4 linked regions of the Homo sapiens genome follow. The protein of the gene in region 3 interacts with the protein of the main gene of each other region in a pairwise test. Each region holds a gene or a part of one and is shown on either strand. Other genes may lie near its edges.

Region 1 (3,500 bases), on a different chromosome or scaffold from region 3:
ACAGAAGGCAGCCACAGTGAAATCAGACATCTACAGCTTTTCTATGATCATGCAGGAGATTTTAACAGGTAGATCAAGATCATTAATGGTTGACCAAAGTCCCTATTCTTAGGTTGCATTTTTCTCCCCCCACAGGAGTTACTGACTTTTATGAAAATAGAAGACTTATTAAAAAGAGACTTCTTGGCTGGGAGCAGTGGCTCACGCCTGTAATCCCAGCACTTTGGGAGGCTGAGGCGGGTGGATCACCTGAAGTCAGGAGTTCAAGACGAGCCTGGCCAAAATGGTGAAACCCTGTCTCTACTAAAAATACAAAAATTAGCTGGGCGTGGTGGCACGTGCCTGTAGTCCCAGCTACTTGGGAGGCTGAGGCAGGAAAATCACTTGAACCTGGGAGGCAGAGGTTGCAGTGAGCTGAGATAGCGCCACTGCACTCCAGCCTGGGTGACAGAGTGAGACTCTGTCTCAAAAGAAAAAAAAAAGACTCAGCAAAGCCCATCCATCTGCTTGTCAGTGATGATGCATTTAATCCACACTAAAAAAATTTATTTTTATTTTTATTTTTTATTTTTTTTGAGACAGAGTCTTGCTCTGACACCCAGGCTGGAGTGCAGTGGCTCGATCTCGGTTTACTGCAACCTCTGCCTCCCGGGTCCAAGCGATTCTTCTGCCTCAGCCTCCCGAGTAGCTGGGACTACAGGTGCACACCACCACGCCCAACTGATTTTTGCATTTTTAGTAGAGACGGGGTTTTACCATATTGGCCAGGCTGGTCTCGATCGCTTGACCTTGTGATCTACCCACCTCGGCCTCCTGAAGTGCTGAGATTACAGGTGTGAGCCACCACGCCCGGCCGAAGCAAACTTTTTAACCTGAATATTGGTATCAGTACTTATGATCTATGTGTGGTATCCCTTGAGAACTTGTAAATTAGGGGGAAAGACTAGCCTCTGAGAAGTAAACTATGAAACACACCCTGTGTCCATTAGATGTATAAACAGTGTCACTTGAAAGAAATGGATGTACTTCCAAATCCACTGCTCTGATGTGGAGAAAGTAGTCACATATCTGAAGATGGAAGGAATCCTTCAAAAGAAAGACACACACACACACACACACACACACACACACACACACACACACACACACACACACACAGTAAAATCACATTAAGGGCTGCTTTTTTTTTTTTTTGACAGAGTCTCACTCTGTTGCCCAGGCTGAAGTGCAGTGGCGGGATCTTGGCTCACTGCAACTTCTGCCTCCCGGGTTCAAGCGATTCTCCTGCCTCAGCCTCCCAAGTAACTGGGACTACAGGCGCGTGCCACCATGCCCGGCTAATTTTTTCTATTTTTAGTACAGACGGGGTTTCACCGTATTAGCCAGGATGGTCTGGATCTCCTGACCTCGTGATCCGCCCACCTCAGCCTCCTAAAGTGCTGGGATTACAGGCGTGAGCCAACGTGCAAGGCTTTTTTTTTTTTTTTTTTTAAGATGGAGTCTTACTCTGTTGCCCAGGCTGGAGTGCAGTGGCGCGATCTCAGCTCACTGCAACCTCCACCTCCTGGGTTCAAGTGATTCTCCTGCCTCGGCCTCCCAGAGTAGCTGAGATTACATGTGCTCGCCACCACACCCAGCTAATTTTTGTATTTTTAGTAGGGATGGGATTTCACTGTGTTGGCCAGGCTGGTTTCAACCTCTGACCTCAGGTGATCCACCCACCTCGGCCTCCCAAAGTGCTAGGATTACAGGCGTGAGCCACCACGCCCGGCCAAGGGCTGCTTTTTTATGGTGTTTGCAGTCCCAGAGGCAAAATGACAATATACATGAGATGAATATTGGGCTCCCCTGCCAGCGGGGAGCCCATGTGTACATGTTGCTGACACTATTGTTTCCTATCTCTGTGGCGGTGATCTCTCTGGTAAATGAGTAAAGTGGCTTCTCACTTATGAATTGGCCTTCCAGGTAGTTTTTTTTTGTTTTTTTGTTTTCTGTTTTTGTTGCTAGGCTGGAGTGCAGTGGCGCAATCTCAGCTCACTACAACCTCTGCCTCCCGGGTTCAAGCGATTCTCCTGCCTTAGCCTCCTGAGTGGCTGGGATTGCAGGTGTGCGCCACCACGCCTGGCTAATTTTTGTATTTTTAGTAGAGAGGGGATTTCACCATGTTGGCCAGGACGGTCTCGATCTCTTGACCTTGTGATCCACCCGCCTCGGCCTCCCAAAGTGCTGGGATTACAGGTGTAAGCCACCACGCCCGGCCCCTCTGGGTAGTTTTTCTACAGAGAGAAATTAATATATAAGGAAATGAATTGTTTCTAAAGTACAGTGGATTAGAAAAAAAAATAAAGAAGTTAAGTGACTTGCCTAAGGTTACCCAGCTTCATCTGATTTCTTTTCCCCCCACTCCACTCTTTGGTTTCCTAATTTACTCTTTTGTATGACTTTTTCCTTACAGATGACATACCCTGGAAGGGCTTAGATGGCTCAGTTGTTAAAAAAGCCGTAGTCTCGGGGAATTATTTAGAAGCTGATGTCAGGCTTCCGAAACCTTACTATGATATTGTTAAGTCAGGCATCCACGTCAAGCAGAAAGACCGAACTATGAACCTTCAAGATATCCGGTATATTCTGAAGAATGACTTAAAGGCAAGCCCTGAAGTTGTTGGGAGTTTATTTCTGCTTACCTAACTCAGGAGAATAGGGAGTTAGAGACAAGATGAAGCTAGAGACCAAGTTGTAAGAAATTTTGGAAATCCTCATTTTATTACACCATTTCTGTGTTCTTGATAATAGCCTAACTGCTTAACTTGGTGAAAGCAGCATGGAATTGAGGAGGGGAGCTAGGGAGGTTCAACACATATGCATAGTAGGGGCACCCTGTAGGCACTTAGTGGAGATTCAGTGAATGGTAGCTATTATTATTGCTTTTAAGGTATTGGCAATAACAATAAACTAGTTAATTAGGACTAAAGTCAGTCTACCCAACAGGAATAAGAGGGAGTTTATCAGATACTTAGATGGTTTCTAAAGCACCAGTGACATTCAGGATGACTGAGACTATGTCCTTGACAATATTTCCTGTGTTACAGGATTTTACTGGAGCCCAGAGAACTCAACCAACCGAGAGCCCCAGAGTGCAGAGATACGGACTCCATCCCGATGTCAATGTCTATCTAGGACTGACTTCAGAACACCCCAGAGAGACACCTGACATGGAAATCATAGAACTAAAGGAAATGGGTATGGCCTTAATTCACAGGTTGTGTTAGTTTGACACAAATGTGTTCTGAGAGTCACATGAGCTGCAACTAATTGACTCCTCTAAACTGTAGATGTAACTTGTTTGTTTTGTGAGATAAAGTCTAGCTCTATTGCCCAGACTGGAGTACAGTGGCATGCTCTCAGCTCACTGCAACCTCCACTTCCTGGGTTCAAGTGATTCTCATGCCTCAGCCTCCTGAGTAGCTGGGATTACAGGCATGTGCCACCATGCTGGGCTA
Region 2 (3,500 bases), on a different chromosome or scaffold from region 3:
AAGATGGTGCAAAAGAGATACGTGTTTGGTAGGAACCATACTTTGAGTACCCATACAACCATTCACTTTCACTACAGTACAAAAAATTACAGGAGACAGCCAAGACTTCATTGTAACATAGGCTTTGTGTTAGATGATTTTGCCCAAATGTGGGCTAAGGTAAGTATTCTGAGGACACTTAAGGTAGGCAAGGCTAAGACATGATGTTTGATAGGTTAGGTGTACTAAATCCATTTTCAACTTATAATATTTTCAACTTGCAATGGGTTTATTGGGATATAACCCCATCACAAGTCAAGAAGCATCTGTACATGTTTTTGTTTTTGTTTTGAGACAGGGTCTTGTTCTGCTGCCCAGGCTGGAGTGCAATGGTATATTCAATGCTCACTGCAGCCTCAACCTCCTGGGCCCAAAGGATCCTCCCACCTTAGCCTCCAAAGTAGCTGGGACTACAGGTACACACCACCACACCCGGCTCATTTTTGTATTTATGGTAGATATGAGGTTTCACCATGTTACCTAGGCTGGTCTTGAATTTGTGGGCTCAAGTAATCCACCTGACTTGGCCTCCCAAGGTGCTGAGATTACAGGCATGAGTCACCGCACCTGGTCGTACATGTCTTTTAAATTTTTCTATGGTTTTGTATGATTTGCAGCAGCTATGCTCTATTTGTTTTCTCAAGGGGAGATGTACCTTCACAACAAAAGTTTTCTTATGATAAATGTCCAGGCTTCAGTTTTTCCATTCAACATTTGAACCTGCTATCAAGAGATACTGTACTAGACGCTGTCAGAAATTTGAAGAAAATCCTTCTTTTTTTTTGTTTTTTGAGATAGGGTCTCACTCTAGTCATCCAGGCTGGAGTGCAGTGGTGCGATCTCAATTCACTGCAGCCTCGACCTCCTGGGCTCAAACAATCCTCCCACCTCAGCCTCCTTAGTAGCTGGGACCATAGGCATGTGCCACAACACCCAGCTAATTTTGTAATTTTTTGTGAAGATGAGGTTTCACCATGTTGCCCCAGCTGGTCTCAAACTCCTGAACTCAAGTGATCCTCCCACCTCGGCCACCCAAAGTGCTGGGATTACAGGCATAAGCCACCATGCCCAGCCTGAAGAAAATGTTTCTGTCCTTAAAGAATTTGAGAGTTCAGAAATAAATCCACATATCTGTGGCCAAATGATTTTTGACAAGGGTGCCAACTCTAACTGGTGGGGAAAGAATAGTCTCTTCAACAGATGTTATGGGGAAAACTAGATTTTCATACACAAGAGAATTAAGTTGAACCTCACCTATCTCACACCATATACAAAAGTTATCTCAATGATCTAAATGTAAGAGCTAAAACCACAAAACTCTTAGAAGAAAACATAGAGGTAAATCCTCATGATCTTGGATTTGGCAATGGATTCTTAGATAGGACACCAAAAGGATAGCAGCAAAAGAAAAAAATAGATAAATTGAACTTCATCAAAAGTTAAAACTGACTGGGTGTGGTGGCTCACACCCGCATTCCCAGCAATTTGGGAGGCCAAGGTGGGAGGATTGCTTGAGCCCAGGAGTTCAAGACCAGCCTGGGCAACATAGGGAGACCCCATCTCTACAAAAAAATTTAAAAACTAGCCAGGCATGGTGGTGCATGCCTGTAGTCCCAGCTACATGGGAGGCTGAAGTGGGAGGATCACTTAAGCCTGAGAGGTCAAGGCTGCAGGTGAGCTGTGATTGCACCACTGCACTCCACCCTTGGCAACAGAATAGACCCTGTCTCAAAAAAACAAAAACAAACTAAAATTTTTGTGCATCAAAGGACATTATCTAGAAAGTGAAAGGACAAGGATGAGAGAAAATATTTGGAAATCATATATCTGATAGAGGTTTCATATTCTGAATATATAAAGAACTCTACTGCTCATAAACACAAAAGACAACCCAATTTAAAAATGGGAAAGGGGCCGGGCGCAGTGGCTCACACCTGTAATCCCAGCAATTTGGGAGGCTGAGGCGGGTGGATCACCTGAGGTCAGGAGTCCGAGACCAGCCTGGCCAACATGGTGAAACCCCATTTCTACTAAAAATACAAAAAATTAGCCGAGTGTGGTGGCAGGCACCTGTAATCCCAGCTAGCTACTCGGGAGGCTGAGGCAGGAGAATCGCTTGAACCCAGGAGGCGGAGGCTGCAGTAAACCAAGATCATGCCATTGCACTCCAGCCTGGGCAACAAGAGCAAAAGCCTGTTTCCAGGAAAAAAAAAAAAAAAAGGCAAAGGACTTCCACAGACATTATTCTAAAGAAGACATACAAATGGTCAATAAGCACATGAAAAGATGCTAAACAACATTAATCACGACAGAAATGCAAATCAAAACAACAATGAAATACAACTTCACATCTACTAGGATGGCTATACTAAAAATAAACAGAAAATAATCAGTGTTGGCAAGGATGTGGAAAAACTGGAATCCTTGTACATTGCTAGTGGGACTGTAAAATGGTGAAGTTGTCATACAAAATGATATGACAGTTCCTCAAAACCTAAACAGAGAATTACTATATGACCTAGCAATTCTGCTGCTAGGAATGCACTCAAAAAGTTTTGAAATCAGCCACTCAGACACCTGTATACTATTGTTCATTGTAGCATTTTCCAATAGCCAAAAGATGAAAACAACCCAAGTTGTCCATCAACATAAGAATAAACAAAACGCGGTACATACACTTGATCTCGGCCAAAAGGCTGAGAAGTGATAAAATGCATATATATACAAAGGATATTCCTTTTCATTCAGCCAAAATAAGGAGTGATATTCTGACATATGCTATAACATGGATGAACTATGAAAACTTTATGCTAAGTGAAATAGCCAGACAAGGCCGGGCGCGGTGACTCACGCCTGTAATCCCAGCACTTTGGGAGGCCGAGGCGGGCGGATCACGAGGTCAGGAGTTCGAGACCATCCTGGCTAACACGGTGAAACCCCGTCTCTACTAAAACTACAAAAAAATTAGCCAGGCGTGGTGGCGGGCGCCTGTAGTCCCAGCTACTCAAGAGGCCGAGGCAGGAGAATGGCGTGAACCCGGGAGGCGGAGCTTGCAGTGAGCTGAGATCGCACCACTGCACTCCAGCCTGGGTGACAGAGCGAGACTCCGTCTCAAAAAAAAAAAAAAAAAAAAAATAGCCAGACAAAAAATGACAAATATGATTCCACTTATATAAAATACCCAGAAAAGGGACATTCGTAGAGGCAGAAAGCAGATTAGATGTTCCCTGGGAATGGGGGAAGGGAACAATGAGAAGTCTCAGTCTCTTTCATGCTGCTACAAAGGAATACCCGAGGTTGCATAATTTATAAAGAAAAAAGGTTTATTTAGCTCATGATTCTGATGTCTGGAGAAGCTCAAGATTGGGCATCTGCATTTGGTGAGGGCCTCAAGTTGCTTCTACTCATGGCAGAAGGCAAAGGAGAGCTGGCTGTGTAGAGAGCATGTGACCAGAGAGAAA
Region 3 (5,251 bases):
CTAAAAGGTCCCGGGCGGCCTGGGGGAGGGGCCGGAGGCCGGGGCGGGGTGGGGGCGCGGCTGGGGGATTTGCGCCCCCTCCTCGGGGCTGCCCCCCGCCAGCCCGCGCTGCACCCCGGCGGCCGCGCCCCCTCCCTAAATTCCGCCTTCGACCTGGGCCCGGAGCCGCTTTCCCCGCGGGCTGCCCGTTGCCCCCGGAGAGTTCGGGGTCGTCCCTCCAGCGCCCGTCCCTGGCCGCGGGGCCGCTGGCTGGAGTCTCTGCCCTGGGGACACCGACTCCGCAGGCCGGCCCCGAACCTCGCACTTTCCCGCCGGCGCGCCTTTGCCCGCACTGGTCGCCGTCGCCACGCGCCATCCTCGCGTCCAACCCCATCTGCTTCCACGCTCGGCTCCAGTGTTGCCGCCATTCCCAGTGGCCGTCGGGGCCCTTCTCCCCTCCCGGGACCGCCCTGGTGATCCGCGCGTCTCTGCGCTTCCCAGGGGTGCTCGGTGCCTCCTTAGACACAGCGTGGCTGCCAGAGCCTGGGGGTCGAAGGCCATGCGCCACAGGGAGGGAGGGAGGGCGGGTGGGGCTTGGGAGGACCCGACAGAAACCCCGTTGACCGCCTGGTCAGCACCCCTCCTTCCCCACAGCGGGGGTTGGGGGGTGGGGGGACCCAGGCCAGGACAGGTCCTTTCCTCCTCTGGGCCTCAGTCTCCCCACAGGCAGAGGCCGCTGGGCGGAGCACAGCCAATTCTAGAAATGTTCATGGAATGAACAGGTCCAGGAGCCTGCCAGAGCCCCTGCCCGGTTTAGCCCTGCAGACCTGGGGTCTGTGGGCGCCTAGAGGTCAGCAGAGGTCAGGGTCAGGGCAGACTGGACATCAGACCTTCTCCCGGTGATGTTCCTCAGAGGTCCTTTGCCCCAGCCCCATCACTCCCAGTCCCCAGGGTTGCCCAAGCCTGCATGGCTGAGGACAGTCTCCCGCTCTTTTCTCCCAAGCTGCCCTCCCCTCTTCCCCCTCTTCCCTCCCCTTCCCCTTCTTCCCTCCTCTCTCCTCCCTCCCCACTCTTCCCTCCCCTCCCCTTCTCCATCTTCCCTCCCCTCTCCTCCCTTCCCTCCCCTTTCCTGGGCCTTAGCTTTCTCTTCTGTGAGATTGAGAGGAGAGGCCGCTGTGGGACTCAGAAGAGGATGTGCCTGACACACATCCCGAAACGATGAAAAGGACGTCCCTTAAAAGACAACTGTTCCCTTGGCCAGGTGCGGTGGCTCACACCTGTAATCCCAGCACTTTTGGAGGCCAAGGCGGGTGGATCACCTGAGGTCAGGAGTTCGAGGCTAGCCTGGCCAACATGGTGAAACCTTGTCTCTACTAAAAATACAAAACTGGGAATGGTGCTGCGCGCCTGTAATCCCAGCTACTTGGGAGGCTGAGGCAAGAGAATCGCTTGAACCCAGGAGGCGGAGGTTGTGGTGAGCGGAGATCACGCCATTGCACTCCAGCCTGGGCAACAAGAGCAAAACTCCATTTAAAAAAAAACCACACAACTGGTCCCAACCAGTTCCCCCCAAAAGATGGCTGGTCCTGGAGAGACTTGGAAGTCTGCAGCTCAGAGCAGCTTCCCTTGGCCACATTCTGGAGGGGCCTCCGCACCCTTACTGGGGGAACTGAGGCCAGTGCAAAGGTCCCCATGAAAGGCATGGGGACTCCTCCACCTTCCCTCCCCGTCCACTGAGAAATAGGGAGCCCAGGCTCCAAGGGGCCTCCTCCCTCCAGCCCCCACTCTGCTCCAGGGAGACCCCCTCAGAGGAAGAGACCCTCAGGGAGGAGGCCCAGCCCTCCTTCCTGCAGGAGGGAAGGCCGAGGTGGAAGGGCCAACCCTGCCTGCTTCTACCACTGCCCCTATAGGAGCACTTACCTGGGGGTGGGGGTGGGGCGCATACAACTTCTTTCTGCCCTCTGAGGGGACTGTCATCACTGTCTTCTCTTTACGGCGGCGGCGGGGTTGGGGGGGTTGGGGGGTGGGGACGGGGAAGCAGGGCTCAGAGGGTTCCAGCCCCCAGCCCAGGGTCACACAGCAAGTTAGAAGAGCCAGGATTGGAATCCAAGCTGGAGAGACTTCCATGACCATGAGCCTGGTCACCCTACCAGCCTATGTCCTGGGGTTGGTGCCAGCTGCAAGCTGTGAATGGCACACACGGCCCACCTCCCACCCCCATCATGCTCTCTGGACATCCCAACCCCTGCCTCTCCCAGGGACAGGGTGTGGAGACCGCAACCCCTCCCCTCCATCAGGAAGGGATGGGCTGTTCCCCCCACCTCCTTCCAGTGCTCATGAGCATGGCCAAGATCCAGGGATAAAGAGAGCCCAAATTCATACTAGGTGCCAGCCCAAGCAACGAACTAGGGGGACTCAGGGCCCCTCCAGGGCTGCCTCTCAACATTCACAGAATGTTCCCCACACCCAACACTCCCCAACCCCCGCAGCCTCAAAAAAACGCGGGCCTTCCATTGACTGTAACTGACAAATTTATTGAAGTCTTGGAAAGAGCTGATCACCCGAGAATAAATAAAAGACACAGAACATTCACAGAACCAATAGGTAGCTCGAGATTCAGGTTTGCGGGAGTGACTTTGACTTACACACAGGCCAGCCTTTGTGTCTGGGGCACGCACAGCTGCGGGCATCTCCCAGAAACTTCTTCCCAAAGGATCTGATGGAGGAGGCAGGGCAGGCTCAGAGGAGCCCCACCCTTCTCCAGCGGGGAGACTTCCCAATCTGGGGCTGGCAGAGCCGGCTCCGGCAGGGAGGGCAGGCTGTTTGGCAACAGACATCTGTGGGTGCAGCCTGGACACCAAGGGCCTGGGGTGGGGTGAGGAGGAGACCCTGAGGGGCTTAGAGAATTGAGCTTGGAGAGAAGGGGCGCCAGGCATTTTTGCCTCCTCCACAGGATACTCGAGAACAGAATGATCTAGAGACCTGGGGATTGGGGAAAGCTTCTCCCGGGGAAGGTGGGGCTGGAGGCAGAGAGGCCCCCTGTGGTCTGGGGAGAGGAGGGGGCCTCTCCCGGAGGACACAGGTGTGTCCCCGCCTCTGCAGCCTCTTGCCTCGACAGGCAAGGCCAATCTCCGACCTAAAGAGGGAGCCTCGGGGTGACGGCTCCAAGACACATGGAGCCTGGGAAGTGAAAGCACAATTATGATGATTTCTCAGTTTTAGAGATGAAAGCGTTTTTCCAGCCCTCGGGCTATGCTGGGCTGGGCTGGGCCTCAGCAAGGTGACATTTCATGTCTAGAAATAGCAGCAAGTGCTCAGTTAATTGGTCAATAAAGGGGAGAAATTTGCTTACAAAAAAGGCTGGCTTGCTGGGAGGCCACCTGGCGGGCCAGCCCTGTGTCAGAGGAGGGGCCAGGTGGGTCCCTCAGCCCCCAGAGAGGGAGCTGTGCGGTCGGCAGTGGGAGGCTCCGAAGGCACCAGCCCTCCCTTGACGCCCTGGCCCCACTTCCTCGGAAACCCCAGCAGCCCCGAGCCGCCCACCCAGGGGCAGCTCCCTCGTGTGAGGTGCAGGGTGGAGCCGGGCCTGGGTCAGAACTGAGCGTGGTCTACCTCATCCAGCCAGGAGGCGGGGCTGGCAGGGAAGTCGGGGTAACCCCCGCTGCTCCCCGTGGATAGGTCAGAACTGGGTCCGTTCCCTGCCAGCACCCTCATGGGTGGGGGCCCGCCGGGGGCTCCCGAGGGCACAAGGCCCAAGCTGGTGTCTGGGTACACCAGGCTGGAGAGGAGGGGCTGGGGGCCAGGGAGGCTCTGCGGGGCGGCGGGGGATGGGGGGACACCGTAGGGGCTGCCGGGACGCAGCTCTCGGTACTGCTCTGGGCCTGCCAGGCCTCCATGCTCCAGGGAGAAGTTGCCCAGGGCTCCCGAGGGCCGGCCCAAGGCCTGGGTGGGTTCCCCCAAGCTCCCGTAGAGGCCATTGGCCGGGCCCATTTCCGCCAAGGAAGGCTCATCTGCAACAGAAGCAGAGGCTCAGTCAGCGCCTGCCCTCCACCTGCGGCCCCTCAGAGTCCCATCCTGCAGGCGGAGGCACCCCTGGGTCGGAGAAAGAGTGGCTGCCCCACACCACATGACAGGTCATAACAGGCCCCTTCTACTGTTGGAGCATGGCTGCCCCTGCCCCTCCACTGCCCTCACCCCTGAGTCAGCCCAGGTGTCTCAGGCCTGGTGGGATCAGAGTCAGGAACAGCCCAGCCAGGGCCCAGGCTTTCAGGACCAGCCCCACAGCAGCCTAGGAAGGGGGCACAGATACCACCACCCACATTTTGCAGACAAGGATATTTAGTTCCAGAGTGGCTGAGTGAGTAGCCCGGGTCACGAGGCAGCCCAAAAGAGAGTGTCTTGTCCACATTCTGAGGATGGGCATCAACAGATGGGGACGCAGCATCCCCGGTGCCCGGAGAATGAAATAAATAATCCAGGCCCCACAGAAGGGTATGGAACCTTCTCTCCCTGACCCCAGGTAGCCCCCTCCCCCAACTCCAAGCAGCTGGGACTTCGACTCAGTCTTTCCCGAAATGCACTGCCCATTCTCCTAAAAATCACTGCAAGGGCTAGGAGCCAGAGAGACGGCCTGGACACGCCCACCCCCCCATGAGAAAGCCCGTAGGCGCCCAGCTTGGGGACAGGTCGGGCCACAGGGATTGTGTCCCCACCAGGGGAAAAGCAGTGGTCCGGAGTGGCCACCCAGGGCGGGGAGGGTGCTGGGGGAGCAGGTTCTGTAAGTGAAATGCTTTTGAAAGTAGAACTTAAGGAGTCCACTAACTCCATGGGAAATTCAGATCCGCGGGCTCCCTGGGACCCCTGCGACCCCGCCGACGCGCGCTCGTCCCCCCCCGAGCTCCGCGATCCCTCCGCCTACCGGGGAAGGAGACCTCAGCGTCGCTGTCCTGCCCCTCCTGAACGCTGTCCTTGTCCGACTTGGAGCCGCCGCGGGAGCGCTTCATGTTGCGGAAATACTGCCCCCAGCGCTGCCGGCCGGCGTCCTTCTTCAGCCTCTTCTCCTTGGCCCGGCGGTTCTGGAACCAAACCTGGGGGCGGGGCGGGGTGAGCGGCCGCCCGGCTCTGCGGGGGCCCCCAAGGCCGCGGGCGGGAGGGAAGCAGGGGCGAGCGCTGACCTGCACCACGCGCATGTCCAGGCCCGTCTCGGACGAGAGCTGCTCGCGCACGTGGCGCGCCGGCTTGGGCGAGGTGTTGTAAGCGCTCTTCAGCGTCTCCA
Region 4 (3,500 bases), on a different chromosome or scaffold from region 3:
TACTAGGTAGGTGCTAAGTAGATAAATGAATGAATTCGTGAGGGAGGGAATGAGCAAATGAGTCTGTAACTTAGACCCTTGCAACCTTCAGGCATTTTTCCAAGATGCTGTTATCTAATGTGGCTGTCATTGTCCTATGCCTGCTCAATTCCAGCCCTGTCAGCCGCCAAAGCAGATGGACAGCACACATTCTAGGGAGCTCTTTGTAAATGACAAGCCTAAGAGAACTGAAAGAACAGCTTCTATGGGGATGGGGCCAGGATTAGTCTACTGCCTGGTTTCTAAATGCCACATTTTAAAATCCTACTCTCCCACCCTCCCCCAGCCTCTCTGCAAATTCCACAGGGCCAAAGTGCAATCATAGTCTAAAATGAAGAAGAAAACAAAAGCATCACCTTTTCCACCATAGGGCTCATGGGGAGCTGTGTTCCTATTTCCCCTTAAGGCCAGAGCCCCCTAACACCTCTGCAAAGCCCAGTCTATCTTATATCTACCTGAATAAGGAGCCTAATCTCTAATTTCTCATCACCAATGAAAGAGGGGAAGCCAGAAAAGCAGATAGTGAGCCAAGAGGAGTAATCAGTGTGGCCACTTCTGGTCTCCCATTCTTCCTGCTGACACCCTGCAATCATACCCAGCCCAGCCCTAGACCAGCACAGTGACATCTCCCCAACCCCTGACAGTCTCCTCACCTGGGATTCTGAGCTGTGAGGACCATAGAAAAGAGGGATACAGGAGTGGGGCTGAAGATAATGCATTAGCCTTGAGTCCTGCTATAAATCCAACATAAACTCTTGTTCACGGATGGATAGCTGGGTGACAGATGGGTGTGTGGGTGAATGAACAAGAGGAGATAGAAAGTTGAATGAGTGAGTGAGGAATGTAAGAGTAAGTGAGTCAGAGGGATGGAATGGGCTGTTCTGTCCTAGTGCTGATGACATCTTTGAAAGGATGGCTCACTGGACTTAGTAAGACCCACTTTCTGTATTCTCCTTTAAGCATATGTCTAGTGCAGTGTTAGAGGTAGGAAGGAGGTTGACAGCTCCTGACAAATGTGAATCATTTGTTCCAAGGAGTCTTCCATAGAATTGTAAAGATATTTTATACAAGTCCCCAAGGAGCCAAGTCAGGACCACCTGGGAACCCCTTCTATCTCCTGTATGGTCTACAAACCAGAGATAAGGATAGATAGAGAAGCCACAGCTCAGGGATGCCACTTGTGACTTAGCCATCTCCTCCAGGGACCTTCTTAGAATCATCCGGGAATTAGATGTACCTGTCACCAGCCTCCCAAAAGCTCCTTAGTGACATCTTAATTTGTACAGAAGATGGTAAGGTCTCTGAGGGACAGACATGGTTGGCAGGCACCCCAAATGCCAGGTGTCCCAAAATGAATGATCATTTTCCTCCTCAAATCTACTTCTCTTCTCATTTTTATTCCACTGAATGGTTCCATCATCTATCTGGTTACTCAGATGATAAATCTTCATTCATTCATTTGTTCAACATATATTTGTGGCATGTGTCAGTAACATGGTACCATGATACCTGCTAGGATAAAGTAACGAGCAAAACCAGACATGGTTCCAACACTCACAGAGCTCATCATCATATAGAGAAAGTAAGCATTAATGATTACATAAATAAATGTAAAATTGAAACTATGATAAAGGCTTGAAGGAGGCACATGTTTTAAAACTTTATAAAATGGGGTTGGACCTGGTCCTGAAGATTATGAAAGTGACAACTCAGCTGAGAACTGAGAGTAAAGCAGGAATTCGGTAGGTGGAGTCAGGAAGAACGAGCATTCTAAGCAGAGGAACAGCAAATACAAAGATTTATGGTGGGAGGGAGCCTAACAAGCCCTAGAGACTGAGACTCAGCTGAGGCCAGTGTGGCAGGGAGAGCCAGGGAGGGAGTGCTGGGTAGGGAGATGTAGGAGAGGGCAGCAGGGCCAGGCAAGCAAGACCTTGTAGGACTTATTAAGGAGTGTGGTCTTTATCTTAAGATCAATAGGAGGCAACTAATGTACTTTTAAGGAAGAAAATGATATGAACAGAGTTGTGTTTTGAAATGCGCTCTGGCTGCTGTGTGGAGAACAAATTGGAGGGGAGCCAGTGTGGATATAAGGGTACCAGGGGGCTCTTGTGGTACCCCAGAAATGTGAAGATGGTACCATGAACTAGGATGATGCTGGTGGAGATGGAAAGAAGTGAAAGATTTGAGAGATATTTACAAGCTAATATCAACAAGATATGGGGACGGATTGGATATGGGTTTTGAGGGAGAGAGGTGTTGAGGATGACTGCCAGGTCTGTCTGCCTTGTGCAGCTACCCAGACGAAGGAGTCATTCAACGAAATCTAAAATACCTGAAGAGGACCAGGTTTCAGTAGGATGAAGAACTACAGAAATTCTGTTTTGGACACATTGAGTTTGAGAGGCCTTTGAGGCATCAAACTGGGAGTCACTTAGACTCCTTCATCTCCCTCACTTTCTGCATTCACCGGTCACTGTGTCCTATTGATTCTACCTCCTCTTCATTCGAACTTAGTTCAGGCCCTGGTAATTACTGTATGAATAATTAAAACAATCTCCAGGCTCTTTCTTCTTCCAATCCATTCACCCACCTCATGCTGTCTGTCTAAATATTGCCTCCTGAAAGAGGCCATTTCTAACCACCCAATCTAAAGTATTCCTACCCCATTACTCTCTATCACAGTCTTTGGGGTTTTTTCTTCTAAAAACATGTAACAATGTATTGTATTGGTTGATTGGAGAAATAAATATACATATATGTCCTAACTCTGTTTGCTAAGAGAGCATATAAACGATGACACACCAATCACAAGGAGCACAGGTAGCCTTTAAATCTTGGTTTCTAAATACCATTTTCGACTAAAAGGATCCAGGGCTCTTCAGACAAATGGCTAATTCCAGGGCTGTAGCAAAGTAAGGAAACTAAGCCTGTAACTTCTTGCTATAGTAAATAGTAAGGAAGAGCACAGAGAATCATGGAGATGCATCAAAAACAAAGAAAGCCAGCTTGCAGAGCCTCCCACTAATCAAGTTTGGGACAATGTGAACATTGAGATAAAATAAAGATAATAATTGACTATAACCCATTGAATAAATGAAGAATTCATGAGACCCTAGTGATAGGAAGGGAGGGAGTGGGGAAAAGATTTTTTTAAAGTAGAATGCCAACTACTAAATACGGAAGAAATAATTGATTCAAAATGATCAACGATGATAAAATCAGTGGGTATAAGTTTGATAAGGAACAGGTTATACACAGTCTCAAAGTATCTCACTACAAATTACTTATTAATTCCAGAGAGAAAAAATAATAATTTTGCAGTGGAGAAACTGGCAGACATTATTCTTAAGCAAGTGATAAAAGCTCCCATCACCAGCACTGGGACAATCCCCACATCATGTGCTTGCTGATATGAAAACTGGAGAGGACATAACCTCACTGCAGTTGTATTCCTGCCCCTA

The links. Proteins that work in one complex are often made in the same cells at the same time.
Region 1: the proteins of LHX3 (region 3) and TEX14 interact in binary tests that used the Homo sapiens proteins (3 or more experiments, as listed by UniProt).
Region 2: the proteins of LHX3 (region 3) and FAIM interact in binary tests that used the Homo sapiens proteins (3 or more experiments, as listed by UniProt).
Region 4: the proteins of LHX3 (region 3) and INSC interact in binary tests that used the Homo sapiens proteins (3 or more experiments, as listed by UniProt).

What each region holds. Positions count from the first base shown.
Region 1 is NC_000017.11:58,601,546-58,605,045, reverse strand, and holds part of TEX14 (inactive serine/threonine-protein kinase TEX14), read left to right. Parts: coding exon 1-68; intron 69-2,455; coding exon 2,456-2,646; intron 2,647-3,089; coding exon 3,090-3,240; intron 3,241-3,500.
Region 2 is NC_000003.12:138,611,771-138,615,270, reverse strand, and holds part of FAIM (fas apoptotic inhibitory molecule 1), read right to left. Parts: intron 1-3,500. UniProt on the Homo sapiens protein: Plays a role as an inducible effector molecule that mediates Fas resistance produced by surface Ig engagement in B cells.
Region 3 is NC_000009.12:136,193,758-136,199,008, forward strand, and holds the end of LHX3 (LIM/homeobox protein Lhx3), read right to left. Parts: coding exon 5,151-5,251; intron 5,064-5,150; coding exon 4,895-5,063; intron 3,987-4,894; coding exon 3,568-3,986; 3' UTR 2,493-3,567; downstream 1-2,492. UniProt on the Homo sapiens protein: Transcription factor.
Region 4 is NC_000011.10:15,121,423-15,124,922, reverse strand, and holds part of INSC (protein inscuteable homolog), read right to left. Parts: intron 1-3,500. UniProt on the Homo sapiens protein: May function as an adapter linking the Par3 complex to the GPSM1/GPSM2 complex. Involved in spindle orientation during mitosis. May regulate cell proliferation and differentiation in the developing nervous system.